4 linked regions of the Homo sapiens genome follow. The protein of the gene in region 1 purifies or fractionates together with the protein of each later gene. This does not show direct contact. Each region holds a gene or a part of one and is shown in the gene's direction. Other genes may lie near its edges.

The links. Proteins that work in one complex are often made in the same cells at the same time.
Region 2: the proteins of PDE12 (region 1) and PGGT1B fractionate together in Homo sapiens (co-fractionation; one large-scale study listed by BioGRID). This does not show direct contact.
Region 3: the proteins of PDE12 (region 1) and ZNF131 purify together in Homo sapiens (affinity purification with mass spectrometry; one large-scale study listed by BioGRID and IntAct). This does not show direct contact.
Region 4: the proteins of PDE12 (region 1) and ENOPH1 fractionate together in Homo sapiens (co-fractionation; one large-scale study listed by BioGRID). This does not show direct contact.

What each region holds. Positions count from the first base shown.
Region 1 is NC_000003.12:57,555,100-57,559,073, forward strand, and holds the start of PDE12 (2',5'-phosphodiesterase 12 isoform 1 precursor), read left to right. Parts: upstream 1-1,174; 5' UTR 1,175-1,280; coding exon 1,281-2,588; intron 2,589-3,974. UniProt on the Homo sapiens protein: Enzyme that cleaves 2',5'-phosphodiester bond linking adenosines of the 5'-triphosphorylated oligoadenylates, triphosphorylated oligoadenylates referred as 2-5A modulates the 2-5A system. Degrades triphosphorylated 2-5A to produce AMP and ATP.
Region 2 is NC_000005.10:115,203,878-115,207,377, reverse strand, and holds the end of PGGT1B (geranylgeranyl transferase type-1 subunit beta), read left to right. Parts: 3' UTR 1-2,638; coding exon of another isoform or gene 2,639-2,749; 3' UTR 2,750-3,366; downstream 3,367-3,500. UniProt on the Homo sapiens protein: Catalyzes the transfer of a geranyl-geranyl moiety from geranyl-geranyl pyrophosphate to a cysteine at the fourth position from the C-terminus of proteins having the C-terminal sequence Cys-aliphatic-aliphatic-X.
Region 3 is NC_000005.10:43,119,599-43,123,713, forward strand, and holds the start of ZNF131 (zinc finger protein 131), read left to right. Parts: upstream 1-1,315; 5' UTR 1,316-1,525; exon of another isoform or gene 1,526-2,440; 5' UTR 2,441-2,455; coding exon 2,456-2,579; intron 2,580-3,610; coding exon 3,611-3,712; intron 3,713-4,115. UniProt on the Homo sapiens protein: Plays a role during development and organogenesis as well as in the function of the adult central nervous system. May be involved in transcriptional regulation as a repressor of ESR1/ER-alpha signaling.
Region 4 is NC_000004.12:82,437,090-82,440,589, forward strand, and holds part of ENOPH1 (enolase-phosphatase E1), read left to right. Parts: intron 1-3,500. UniProt on the Homo sapiens protein: Bifunctional enzyme that catalyzes the enolization of 2,3-diketo-5-methylthiopentyl-1-phosphate (DK-MTP-1-P) into the intermediate 2-hydroxy-3-keto-5-methylthiopentenyl-1-phosphate (HK-MTPenyl-1-P), which is then dephosphorylated to form the acireductone 1,2-dihydroxy-3-keto-5-methylthiopentene (DHK-MTPene).

The sequences.
Region 1 (3,974 bases):
TGGGCGTGGTGGTGTGTGCCTGTAGTCCCAGCTACTTGGGAGGCTGAGGCACGAGAATCGCTTGAACTCTGGAAGCCGAAGTTGCAGTAAGCCAAGATCGCACAGCTGCACTCCAGCTTGGGTGAAAGAGCAAGGCCCTACCTAAAAAATAAAAAAATAAAATAAACAGATAAACAACTATTTCTTAATATATGCCCCATTATTATTCCTTATCTGAAATTGAATTTAACTGAGATCCTGTAATTTTATTTGTTAAATGTAGTAACTAAATAGAGTCTTCCTATTTACTAACTAAAAATAAACACTGGGTGGCTCTTGCCTGTTTGTACTTGAGAGGGTTAGGCGGGAGGATCGCACGAGCCCTGGAGTTCGAGGGGGCAGTGAGCTATGATCAGGCCACTGCACTCCAGCTTGGGCGTCAAAGTGACAACCTGTCTCTAATAAAAAATAACAAACAGCCTTCCGCAGTTTGTCAGTACTATTTCTTTCTGCCAATTAATAGTTGTGTGACCCTGAGCAGGTAATATCTCGGGACTCTGCATCTGTAAAGCGATGGATAAAGAGACCTACCTCATAAGAACTATGAGGCTTAAATAAGATAGTGTGTGTAGCGTTTCTCGCATAGTCTGCGCTCACTAAACGGAGTTATTGTATATCGTTCGTTGTTAACTACCACAAAGGCTCTGCTCAGAGGTGCGTAGGCGCTGGCTCAGCCTGGGGTGAACCCACCAGGCCACCGAAACGAGCGATCAGGGTCGGCAAAGCTGTGGAGATGAAATGGGCAACACCTTCCACACTGCGAGTAAAGCTCGCAATCCGGGTGGAGGCCTCCACGTCCTAGCGCAGTCCAGTCCCGGGCGCAGGGAGGAGAGCTGGTCAGCCAAGATTCCAAGACAGGTGTCCACCTCCTCCAACGAAGCGGAACACGTGACACCACCCTATCCACTTCCGGCTTGGAGGGCATGCCCTCCCGTCACCAGCATGCACTTTCGACAAAACCGTGGAATCTAGTATTTTCCTCTGACACCTTTATATTTTCTTCACTTCCCTATAATTCTGACCTATCGTGTAGGTAAAAATTAATCTTCAGAGTATTACAGACATGCGTGCCCACGCGCTAGGCGAAAGTGCGAGTCGGAAGCACTTCATTCCCTCTCTTCGCTAGCCGGAAGTCGCGAGATCTGAATGAGTCAAAGCCGGCGGCCTCGGCTCCTCAGCTCCACCTGACAGTAGGCCGCTGATCGGCCGCGGGTCTTGTCGACCGCTAGGCCACCAGGTTCATGTGGAGGCTCCCAGGCGCCCGCGCCGCGCTTCGGGTGATCCGGACGGCGGTGGAGAAGCTGAGCCGGGCTGAAGCGGGGAGCCAGACAGCGGCGGGAGCGATGGAGCGCGCTGTAGTGCGCTGCGTACCTTCGGAACCCAAGCTGAGCCTGTCATTCGCTTTGGCTGATGGTAGCCACAAGAACATGCAGCGCGACCAGAGCGAGCCGCTGGGTCGAGTCCTCAGCCGCATCGCTACCAATGCCCTAAAGGGTCACGCTAAGGCGGCCGCCGCCAAGAAGAGCAGGAAGAGCCGGCCGAATGCTAGCGGCGGTGCGGCCTGTTCAGGGCCGGGGCCTGAGCCGGCTGTGTTCTGCGAGCCCGTGGTGAAGCTGTACTACCGGGAAGAGGCAGTGGCTGAGGACGTGCTCAACGTGGATGCCTGGCAAGACGGCGCGGTGCTGCAGATCGGCGATGTTAAGTACAAGGTGGAGCGCAACCCGCCCGCCTTCACCGAACTGCAGTTGCCGCGCTACATCATGGCCGGGTTCCCTGTGTGCCCCAAACTCAGCCTCGAATTTGGGGATCCCGCCAGCTCCCTTTTCCGCTGGTATAAGGAAGCCAAGCCCGGAGCGGCGGAGCCCGAGGTCGGTGTCCCCTCGTCATTGTCTCCCTCCTCACCTTCTTCTTCTTGGACTGAGACTGATGTGGAGGAGCGTGTCTACACCCCGTCCAATGCCGACATCGGGCTAAGGCTCAAGCTTCACTGCACCCCAGGCGATGGGCAGCGCTTTGGGCACAGCCGGGAGTTGGAAAGTGTGTGTGTGGTAGAGGCTGGGCCTGGCACCTGCACTTTTGACCACCGGCATCTCTACACGAAGAAGGTGACTGAGGACGCTCTCATCCGCACTGTCTCTTACAACATCCTGGCAGACACGTACGCGCAGACTGAGTTCTCGCGAACGGTTCTGTACCCATACTGTGCCCCCTACGCCCTGGAGCTCGACTACCGCCAGAACCTTATCCAGAAGGAACTCACCGGCTACAACGCCGATGTCATCTGTTTGCAGGAGGTTGACCGCGCAGTGTTTTCTGACAGCTTGGTACCCGCCCTAGAGGCCTTCGGGCTCGAGGGGGTGTTTCGAATCAAGCAGCACGAAGGCCTGGCCACTTTCTACCGAAAGTCTAAGTTCAGCCTTCTTAGCCAGCATGACATTTCATTCTACGAAGCCCTCGAGTCCGACCCACTTCACAAAGAACTGCTGGAGAAACTAGTTTTGTACCCATCAGCGCAGGAGAAGGTGCTCCAGAGATCTTCTGTTCTTCAGGTAAAGTAGTTCCGCCCGTCTCTTCACATACTGTCCCACTTTTAGGGGCCAGGAAGGCGAGGAATGAGGTGGGGGTTAAAAGTGCGATGAAAGTATCCAGATATTGTTGAAAGGTGTGTTTGCCCTTGTATCTTCAGCACAAAGTTTACTCTTCATTCATTCAGCAGATATTTTTTGAACACCTCTGGTGTGCCTGCCATACTGCAGGTTGCCTTGAACAAGACTAGCAGGGACTTTTACAGTGCTTACAATCTAGCGAGAGGGACACACGCTAAATGCAAGAACAATAGTAGCTAATGTTTTTTACTACTTGCCAAGCACTGTTCTGGCACATTTTAAAGTACTTAAAATTTAAGAGCGTGGTGTGTTTTGAAGTGCTCCATAAATATAAACTAGTTTTTTTTAAATCATAGGCTCATTGAATCTTCACAGTAAGTCCCCTATTCCCATTTTATAGATGTCATTCTTGTGTTAAAGTTTTTAAGTAATTGATTTTGTTCATAATAAGAAGAGCAGCTACCATTTTTTAAGTACCTAAGGTGTTTCATGCACCTTATAAGATCATTTAATTGACTCCACACAACAGCCCATGAGGTGGATGGTATTGTCAGTGACTGCCAGTACGAAACTGGCTAGAAAAGCATCTTTTTGCAGGTCACATTGCTATAAATGGTGAAATGAGTATTCAAACCCAGGTCTGCCTGACTCCAAAGCCTGTGCTTACGCTTGAAAACACTTTCTCCAGTCAAAGTGTTGTCATGTAAAATGTATTGTTTATATTACTAGCTTTATATATTGGACTATTATTATTATTATTATTATTTTGAGACGGAGTCTCTGTCACCTAGGCTGGAGTACGGTGGCGCGATATCGGCTCACCGCAACTTCCGCCTCCCGGGTTCAAGCGATTCTCCTGCCTCAGCCTCCCTAGTAGCTGGGACTAGAGGCGCGTGCCACCACGCCCGGCTAATTTTTTTAGTAGAGACGGGGTTTGGGGTTTCACCATGTTAGCCAGGATGGTCTCGATCTCCTGACCTCGTGATCCGCCCGCCTCAGCCTCCCAAAGTGCTGGGATTACAGGCGTGAGCCACCACGCCCGGCCTATATTGGACTATTATTAAAACATGTTACACTGAACCTAGTCATGTAGATCCTGAAACTTTAAGTTGGATTTCATGACTGCAGTCCTAGTTCATCAAGGGAAGGAGATGGAAGAAAACGTTAGTTCGCCATTAGTCTTAGATAAAAAACAGGCCGGGCCTGGTGGCTTATGCCTGTAATCCCAGCACTTTGGGAGGCCGAGGCGGGTGGATCACAAGTCAGGAAATCGAGACCATCCTGGCTAACACGATGAAACCCCGTCTCTACTACAAATACAAAAAAATT
Region 2 (3,500 bases), on another chromosome or scaffold:
GTACAAGGGAGACTCTGCGGTGCTGGTAATGTTCTGTTTCATGATCTAGGTGCTGGTTACGTAGGTGCATTCACCTTATGAATATTTATCAAGCTGTATATGATTTGTGCACTTTTCTGTATGTATAATTATAGCTCAGTAAAAATGTTTACTAAAAAGAGTAACAAGACTATATATATATATATATATATATATATGTATGTATATGCAAACCTAAACTAGTTAGAAGATACTTGAAGAGAAGACCACCTTTGTGATAGCAAAAGTAAAAAGAAAACTTAATGTGTAAATTTAAGACACATCTAAAATCTGTATGAGGAAAACTAAAAAAACTCTTGAGAGGCAAAAATGTAGATTCCACCAAATGGAAAGATACATGATATTCTTAGATAGACAACATCAAAACATGTCTTTCCCCACTTAGGTTCATTTATAAATTCAGTGCCATTCCAATAAAAATTATATTGTTATTTGAGAGAACATACTAGAATAACCATGGAAACTGAAAAGAATTAGAGGGGACCAGCCATATCCGACACTAAAACATACTCTAAATCCTCCATGGCAGAAGCTATCAGAATTTTTTAAAGTGTGCACACTTTTTGGCCCAGATACTCTCTATCTATAGATTTAGCATAAAGAAACATGCAAATAGGCAATGATACATTTTCAAGGATCTCACAGCCACATTTTTGTAATTGTGAAAAATAAGACACATTATGATACATTTATGTAACTCAATACTATGCAACTGTTAAAGTATGGATATTGGAAGGCATTCGTAATGTTGAATAAATGAAAAGTTTTGTATTGGCACATAAATAGGAAGTCCAATGGAACAGAAGAGGAATTCCAGAAATAGACTCAGTGGCATTTAGAATACAGTAAAGGCAGCATCTCAAGTTAGTGAGAAAATGAACTTTTAAGTAAGTGCTATTGAGATTACTGGTGCTTAATTATTCAGATATTTACAATTTTAAAAAATATATAGCTTATTTCACTTTGAACCTTTTTTTAAAATGGTCATTTAGTTTTATAATTTAAAGAAAAATGATAGTTCTCTCCCCATCCCAGCCTATACTATACCCACAGCCTATACTTCCTGGAGGTAAACACCACTGTTGCATACATCTTTCAGACCTTTAATCTCTGTATATAGAGATATAGAAATAGAGAATATTCTTTAAATATCTGAACATTTAAGTATTACTCATCCCAATACAATATATACTTATACAAATAGATATATGTATGTATACTATACATAAAGATCTGAGGTACTAAATATTCCATGGTTTTTTTTCATTCAACAATGTATTATGAATGCCTTTCAATAGCCATACTTTAATAGTTGCATAGTATCACGTTGCATAAACATATTAGGTCAGTGCATAAGTAATTGCACTTTTTACCATTTTAATGGCAAATGAGGCACTGATTAATCAGTGCCTTATTTTTCACAACTACAAAAATATTGCTGTGAGATCCTTGAAAATGTATAATTGCCCATTTGCATGTTTCTTTAAATTTATAGATAAGGAATTACTGGGGCAAAAAGTGTGCACAATTTAAATTTGATGTTTTTGTTTTTGCCAAGCTGCTTTTTAAGAAGGTTGTACTAATGCACACTTTTATCTTGACACTAAGATTTTAAATATGATCAGAAAATGGGTTTCTGATAGTAAAACTGTCTACTTGTAATAATTGTGGCATTAGAAAAGACCTTTGTGGCTTCGTTCCTCAAACTCATTTACGAATTATAAATCTGAATTCCAAATATGAATTAACTCACACAAGATAAAGCTTTAACAGTTAGTAGCAGTACTGTAACTAGAGTGCATGTTTTCTGTCTCCAGAAATAACATTCTTTTTATGCCACATTTTTTTAACTGAGGTGATCATTCTCCACCCTCTTCTTTCCATGTTTTTCCATGTTTGTTCAAACTTTTCATTAAATATCTTGAGGCTCTAACTAAATTAAGGGTGGCCATTAAAATTGTATGTGGGATTCCCTGAACCAACTGGTAATGCACTACCAGCATATAAGGTGTCCTCATTAAAGCAGTTGGTGATTGGTACATGGGACCTCACTCATGTATGTTTGCATCTACTTGTGAGTCAAAAAGTTTTCTTAAAGTATAGGTGGGATCATGAAAGACATACAATTCACTGGAGAAATTGTGAAAAAGTAAAAGATTATGAATTTAGGCTCAAAGCCAATTTCCCTCTCATTTAATTCTACATGAGCAAGTCAAGGAGTTTGGTAGAGCTTTATGAAATCTCTAAAGATTGAAGGAAAACAATCACTAAAATCGATTTGATAAAGTGCAACTAAGTAGTATGCTAGCCTGTTAATGGATTTTCATCTTGTCATTTAAGTTTCAGCAATTGAGTACCACACTAGAACACCCACAAATGAGATTCTGTTACAGAGTATCTTTTTTCTACTACAGAACATACTGTAGACAGTTATTCAGTGGTTAACTTGTGGAAATAATCAGAAGATGCTTTTCACTTTTATGACTGGATATATTTTAATATTTATCATATTAAGAGAAACTTAGGTTACTTACAGCTCATAAACGTTGCTATGAACATCATTCATTTATTCACTTATTTATTTTTATGGTGTTCCTAGAAAGAATTTCCTGGACTAAAGGATTTATGCTTTAAAAATATTGGTAGTTACTGCCAAGAATTGCCATCCAGAAACAGTGTAGCCATTCATAAACTCAACAACAAGGTATGAGAGTGCCTGTTTCCTCATATCCTTTGTGACACCGGATTTTATCAAGCTTAAAGTTTTTTCATTCTAGGTGGGTGAAAATGGTATTCCGTTATTGATAATGTGTGGAAATCAAGTTCTAATAAGTTTGGGGGGAGGTTAATTCTTTATATGTGCTGTATGAATTAATGCCAACTGTATGCCTTTGAGAGTGAAATCAGAATAATGTCTCTCCACTAAAGCAGGACTTAGAGCACTAGTTTTCCAAATGTTGTCTACAGATGGAAACACTAGCATCACCTGGGTACTCGTTAGAAAGTGCAGATTCTCTGGCGGTACCTTAGACCTCCTGAATTAGAAACTCTGGGGGTAGGGTTAGACATTTGTGTTTTAAACAAGCCCTCCAAGTGGTTTCAATGCACATTCAAAGTTGAGAACCAATCACTGATAGAGAAAAAGCAGCTTGGGTAGAAACAGTTGATTATTTGCAAATTTATATTTTAAAAAGATAGGATTCTTAACAGTAAGCTCTTTATAATTCAACAATGTGATCTTTACTCCTACCCCCGAAAAACTAATATGATTTTAGTGTGTGGTAGCTGGATCGAAAACATAATAAATACTCAGATATGCAAAGAAAACGTTTTCTCAAATGGATTTCATTTTTATTTACCCATATCTTTGGCTATTAAGGGATGGGGGGAGGCTAAGGAAAAGGGCCATTTGAATGTGTTAGCTAACAATCTCAGTCTCTTCCGATTTCAGCAGTGTCTTT
Region 3 (4,115 bases), on another chromosome or scaffold:
ATGGTTTCATCTACATTACTAACAGTCTCCCAGTTGATCTCTATTCCTAGCAGCTTGTCCCATTTAATCTGTTCTCCATATTGGGGCTAGAATTATCTCTTTAAAAAGTACATCTTAGGATGTCACCATGCGGCAAGGCTTCCCCTTGCAAAAAGAAAATCTGACATCTTCAACACTTTTTATAAGGCACCCTTGTGCGTCTATCCAGCAACATTGTTTCAGTTTCCTGAATGCTATAATCTTGGTGCCTTTGCATGTGCTATACTTTTGGCTAAGAACACTTAGACTTCACATCACTTAAAAACATTTTTTGTTTTAATACAGATGGGGTCTCGCTATGTGCCCAGGCTGGCCTCAAACTCCTGGGCTGAACTCCTCCTCCCCAACTCGGCCTCCCAAAGTGCTGGGATTACAAGCGTGAGCCACCGCGCCCGCCCACATCTCTTCTTACAGGTCAACTGGCTTTCCTTGACACCCAGTTACTTCGTTCTTCAGGTGTTGCAAAACTCATCAGCAAGCACCTAGGCAATTACTGTTCAAAATATCTATGCAGTCTACTAGACTTAAGATTCAGAAAGGCAGAAACCACATATACCTTGTTCACAGCTGGACTTCTCAGTGTCTAGTACTAGGATTCTCAATACATATCTGTTGAAGTTATGATGACATTATTACCATATAGCTATTTGAGTTCCTCCGTAATCCCAATTCTCAAGTTCTTTGAGAGAAAAAAATAAGTAAATCTCAATTATAGAATTATCCTCAAAATGTATTTATATATAATATTTCTTTGGAGGAATTAAGGAAGCAGTCACATGCAGCTGACTGTGGGTCACTGGACTTTTTTTTTTTTTTGAGACGTTGTCTCGCTCTGTCGCCCAGGCTGGAATGCAGTGGCACTACCTCAGCTCACTACAACCTCCACCTCCCCGCTTCAAGCTATTCTCCTGCCTCAGCCTCCCGAATAGCTGGGATTACAGGCGCCCACCACCATTCCCGGCTAATTTTTGTATTTTTAGTAGAGACGGGGTTTCGCCATGTTGCCCAGGCTGGTTTCGAACTCCTGACCTCATGTGCTCCACCCGCCCAGGCCTCTCAAAGTGTTGGGATTACAGGCATGAGCCACCGCGCCGGCCTGGACTCTTTAAAGGAGTGGGGAAGGCCTGCACTAACGGGATCCGGTGTAAATAATTCTGAGCAGCTCCAGGTCCTGAGCCCAGCAAGCACGTGCTGCGGCAGGGCGCGGGGAGGGCGCGCTTCGCGGAGGAAGATTCCGGGCGGCCCGAACGTGCTCGCGCCCGTAGCTGCCGCTGCCGGGGCCGCGGCCGCCCGGGTGCCCAACCGAACGCACGTGCGCCAGCGGGGCCCGAGCAGAAGGGGAGCCCCGGCTCTCACGAAGAAAATGGAGGGCGACCCACGGGTTAGGGGTCAGGAAAGGCGTGGGGCGCATTATGCCCTGGGAGGGGAAAGCACGGAACAAGAGGCTCTGAGGGACGGAGAGGAAGGAGGGCGACCCACGAGCTAGGTAAGGCGGGCCAACCCAGGTCTCGGAAGGAAGGGGGCGGGGCAGGACGGGGCGGGAGGGGCCGCGCAGTAGCTGGGCTGTGAGGACGGTTGGCGAGTTCATTCCGGGCTCGGGTCGGGAAGTGTCCGCCCCTGGAGTCAAGCTGGGGAGGGTGAGAGGTTGAAGGGCAATGACTTAGGTTCCCAGCTTCTGGCCCTGCCAGGCTCTGCAGTAGCCCAAGCCCACCGCTGCCCGGTTTCTTCTCAGAGAGCAAGCCCTCGCCCTTCGTGAGCGCCAAATCCCCGCGCTCGGCCCCGCCCATCCACTGAGGGGTGTGGGTAGGGGCGTGGCCCGTTCCCTTGCTGGTCGGCGCCCGGAAGGCGTCCGCGTCAGCCGGAGCTCGACGCGGTGACGGTGTGCGTCGACGTAAGTGACGCGCAAGCCTGGGCCGCTCCTCCTTCCCTCAGTGAGTGCCGGCCCGGTCGGGGCGGGGGAGAAGAGGGAGGGCGGGGGAGGGAGAGGCGACCCGAGAGTCGTTGTGGGTCGCGGGCCGGACCGGGTCCCGGGGCGGTGGGAGCCCCGGCCGGGCAGAAGGGCTTGGCGGGCCGTTAGAGGACCGCCACGGCTGTCGAGTCCCCTCCCTTGTTGGACTTGCGCGCCCTGGCGCTCGGAACCTCCGGCGCTGTGCCCACCCCGCTCTAGCTCGCGTCTCCCGACTCCAATTAGGTCAGGCTCGGAGTCCCGCGGCCGCGGCTCCGGTCTCAACGCTCCGGGGCCGCTCGGCTCGCCTTTCTTCCCTCGCCTTTCTCTCCTCTTGCTTCACCCTCCCCCCTTCTTTTCACGTTGCTGGTTTTTTTTGTTGTTGTTTTATGCTTTAGGGGTTTTGTTCCTCGGCTCGAGCTCATGGGTGTACATTATCATGCTCTTCTTTTGTAGAGCAGCCCGACGGCCATGGAGGCTGAAGAGACGATGGAATGCCTTCAGGAGTTCCCTGAACATCATAAAATGATCCTCGACCGATTGAATGAACAGCGAGAGCAGGACCGGTTTACTGACATCACCCTAATTGTCGACGGTGGGTAGGGCAGTGGGCAGAGGAGCGAATTTTTGGCTTCAGTTTTTTTCTGTCCTTCGGACACCCGCCTTTTTTTTTTTTTTTTTTTTTTTAACCCATCCTCTATGGTCTCCCTACCAAAGTCTGCAGAGTGTGTGCACTGGGACCAGATTGCACTTGTCAGTGTCCACTCACACAGCGTGCTGCAGAAGGCTGGTTGGTCAGTCATGCCTTCCACGTAGTCTGGTGTTCATCTCATTTTAACTTCTTACATCCTGTTGAGTGCAAGATGATGTCGTTGGGGACAGATTGTCTCAAAATGTTTGGTTGATAGCCTCTTGTTGGTAAGCTTTGAGAAGTCCCTTACAGGAGTCATTTGGGAAGTGTTGATTTTTTTTCTAGTTTCCCAAATGGTCTTGAAGGGAGAATGAGAGATTCCATTGCAGCACTCATACCCCCTTTGAGAATCTCCAAAATAAAATGGGGTCTTTACCAGCCTTAGGAGTTGCCTCTATAATGGAAGGAAATCCAGCGTGGGTATGTTTTCTGTTTAGCGAAAATAGGTTTCTCAAGGTAACCTGTTTTTAAAATTATGGGTCTACCATAGATGGAGCTTCCAAATATTAGGCATATTAAAATGTTTTTCATAGCAGACATATCCAGCTTTGTGCTTACGGTTTTTTTCTCTCTTTCCAAATGATATGTGACCTTTTGGGTTGTCCTTTTATTTAGCAGTTTCAACTGAGTTGGATATGCTTCTCACTACTTAATTGGAAACAACAGAGTGTCAAGAGGCTCCTTACCTAGTGTTGTAAATTAGGCTTTATAAAACTAAAGGGGTTTGAAGTGAAGATTTAGCTTTATATCTAATTGAGATTAACATTTGCCAAGATAGCTGCCAAGAATATTCTGCATTTAGTTCAATAATTTCTGTAGTTACGTAATGAAGGAAGACCTATTTTGCTTTATATGATTTTTAAGTCTATTTTGTAGTTATACATTTGATTTTCGTGCTTGTGTATGATTTTCTTTTTTTTTCTTATTTTACCTAGGACACCATTTTAAGGCTCACAAGGCTGTTTTGGCTGCTTGTAGTAAGTTCTTCTACAAATTCTTTCAGGAGTTTACCCAAGAACCATTGGTGGAGATAGAAGGTAAATGATTCTTGTTGTTTTTTTATTTAATAAATCAAAGAAGCCATTTTATTTAAATGCTTGTTTTAAATACAATACTTAGCAAACAATTGGTGAAGCAGTTTTAGACAGTTTATCAAGACACCATAGGAAATAGGCATCAGTAGTTCCTGTAGGTAAAGGTAGATAAATTGTTCTTTTGATACCTGAGAAGTCTTACTTTCAGTGAAGTGCTTGGTTGAATGATCTGCCAGGAAAAACTTAGATGGTAGATGTTGGTCTTTTCCATTGTGGAAACTGGTGGTCATTGTTTTTTGAAAACAAGTATTAAACGTGAATTACTATCTTTGTTCAGTGGGCTTATGTTTCAGACTGCTGGAGATGCTGCAGGTTACAGTAGAAGCTTTTACTGTACTCTATAGCA
Region 4 (3,500 bases), on another chromosome or scaffold:
AATTATAAAAAAAGAAAGCACCTCTCACTTTGATTTCTGGTTCCTTATTTTTCTAGAACCTTCAGTATTGTGGCATTAGCATAATCTTTCCAGCCTAATCAATCCTTCTTTCCTTTCCCTCACATTTAATTGAATACCTGTCATGTTCCAGGATATGGTAGGGATCCAGAGTCCTTAAGACCCAGCTGTCACCCTCAGGTTCCTCAGGGAACCTAGAAAGGAAGACAGTTACATAAATAGGTCGCCTTTGCATAATCAAAGTCCTCTGTAGTCTCTCACTGGCTGTGAGATGAGAGTTCAACAAATTGGGTTTTCCAACTTTCTATCCCTCTCTTTACACTTTACATAGCTGAACATGCACATTCCAATCATGCCCTTTCTTGCTGCCACCATTCTTCCAGCTTGGAATGTCATACCTTTTCGTCTCCAAGTGTGGGTCCCATGCACTCATTAACTTAAAAAAAAATTACTTATTGTGCTAAGCTGTGGGAATATGGAAGTAAGAGCTACCTCTTCTTGTAAAGGACCTATTTAAGCAGGAATTTCAAAGTCCTTTCTCTTCGTCCTCTGAACTCATTGTCAGTACCATGTGTAGTATTTGCTACTGGAGCCAATAGCTGACTTGTGATGTTGGATGTGTGTCCTCTTTTTCAAGCTGTGTGGAAGGCTCCTCAAGGGCAGAGACCAGAGCCTCACACAGTGCTTACACATCAGGCATGCTGTAACATGCTGGGTGATGGTGATATGCATTCCGGAATGGGTGTGGGAGGGACTGGGATTCAGTTTCTTCCATACTCTGCAATCCTTGCTATTTCAGATTTCCTCAAGGTGGTACTCTATTATATTTGAACAATTTAACTGAAAGTGTTTCTAGAGTGGCATTAGAATTCATTGACTCAACATTTCCAAAACCTACAAGTTATAGAGGATGAAACCAGCTGATAATGGAAATTAAATGTCATAAAAGAGAAAATTTTATTAACAAAATTAAGATAAAAAGTGAAATATGTTATTTATAGAAACTTGCATCTGTTAATGTAAGACTAGAGGAAAGGTTTTTCTACCCCCCCAAATATTCTTCCTAGAAAATTAGTTCGCCCTGATTATAAAATTGCAGACAAAGAAGAGTATGATATAGAGAGTGAAAGCCCTGATATGCTCCTGCCATCCAGAGGTGACCATTAAGAGTTTGGTGAATATTCCTTCTGTTTTTTTCCCTAGGTACACAGTAAAGTCATACAGATCTTTGAAAGATATGTAGTCAGACTTATTGAGTAAAAGGGGTTGGGCATGGTGGCTCACACCTGTAATCCCAGCACTTTGGAAGGCCATGGCAAGGAGATTACTTGAGTCCAGGAGTTCAAGACCAGCCTGGGCAACATAGGGAGACCCCATCTCTACAAAAAATAAAAAATTGGCTGGACATGGTGATGTGCACCTGTAATCCCAGCTACTCAGGAGGCTGAGGTGGGAGGATCACTTGAGCCCAGGAGGTAGAGACTGTGGTGAGGTGTGATTGTGCCACTGCACTGCATGCAGCCTGGGTGACAGAGCTGGAATGCAGTGGCGTGATCGAAAAAATAACAATTTTTAAAAGGGGCACTGATTTTAAGCTATAACCCCTATATTTTAAATACATAGGCTGGATTTTATCTTGCTCATACAGACTTTTAAAATGATACCCTGTGTTTAGCCCTGAAAAGTGCTTACTTCTTCTTTGTCTGATGGGTCTTAAAATTTTCTATCCTTGCAGCTTACCCTGTGTTACCACTCCACTAAAGAAAACAAAGTATTCTTTTTTACAATAAAAGGTTATTTTTATATGAAACTTTGAATTTCACATTTATCAACTCATTTGATTTTCAAAACTGGTTTTGTTGGAGGTGCAGGTCAGAAGAGGAGTGGAAACCAACCTGCCCTAATCCTATTGCACCCATTTTCCCATCAGCTCACTAAAGAGTCGTGTGGAAAGTTGGTAGCTTTATCCTCAGAGGCCCTCCTGGATCCTCTCTGGACCTTTCCCAGGTGATACCATTTCAGGAAAATGGGTTTCTTTTCAAAGACAGAATGTCTTTAGGACAGAAAGGGGTTGTTTGCCTTCTAGGTATGTGCATGAGGGGTTCATTTCTTAGCTTGATTTTCTTTCCAGTGATTCATGATGTGACCTTCTAACAAGTTCCTTTTCTTAAGTCTAAAAAGTGTGGACCTGGTACCCCTTTACTGAGTAAAGAGAAACTAAGGCATGCGGTTTGGAAACTAATGGTAATTTCAGCATTGAGACCTTGGTGGGACTTTGGAGCTCACAATCAGACCAGTGTTTGACAGTTAAGCTTGTGTATACTTACTCCAGCTCTCTCTGGACTGGTCTTGTATGGGTCCAAGTCGTTGTAAGTTCAGGAAGGTAATTAGATCCCTTTGATGGGGGTAAAGAGTGGGATCTTTACCCCCGATCTGATACTGGGGAGATTCCAGGCATCTGACTCTATAAACTCAAAAAGAAAGACCTGATTGGTAAACTATAATCTCAGTTTGTTAATTTGTACTTAACCTTTATGTGCCTCTGAAAAATGGAGGAAGTAGTAGCACCAATTTCACAGGGTTATTATGAAGATTAAAATGACATTATCAGTAAGTTGAGTAAATTTTGAGTGCTTGGTGGTGGCAGTGGTGAGAAGTGATTGGATCTGAATATATTTTGAAGGTAGAGCTGATGGGATTTGCTGATGGATTGGTTGGATGTGGAGTTTGAGAGAAAGAGGAGTCAAAGATGACTCTAAGGTTTTTGGCCTGAGCATCTGGAAGGATGGTTCTGTCATTTACTGTGATGTGGAGATGTAGGGGGAGGAGGAGGATTAAGGGATGGAATCAAGAGTTTGGTTTCAGATGTGTTTAGTTTGAGATACTGAATAGACATGCAAGTGGGGATATTGGGTAGGCATTTGGAAAAGGTCCAAGCTAAAGGTAAGGATTTGGGGATCATTAGTATAAATGGTATTTAAAGTCATGGAATTAGGTAAGATCACAAAGGAGTGATTATAGATAGAAAAGAGAAGTGTTTGTCATAGTAAGTGCTCAGTAAATGTTGGCAGTTACTCCCATTACTATAACTACTTGAATTATTATTGCTGATACTTTATAGGAAATGTTACAGAACTACTGGGTGAACCATAATCTCTCATTTTCTTTGTATGAAACCTCTTTGGGGAATCAAAGCTATATTAGAAATTTCCATAGAGAATATGCTGTCAAGATCCAGGGAGTTAGATGATCCTGGTGAGTAGTGCTCCTTGAAGTCATTCACCCGTGAGAGCTGGATGGCTTCAGGTGTTGGGATTTGATAGGCCTGGGTTTGAGTCCTGGCTTTACTCTGCACCAGCAGCGAAACCTCTTTGAACCTCAGTGTCTTCCTCTATGAAAGAAGGCTTACTTTGCAGGGATGTTAGGCAGATTCAAGGAGATGAATGTGAATGCCTTCCTTTCCCCTCCACTGTTAAGGACTA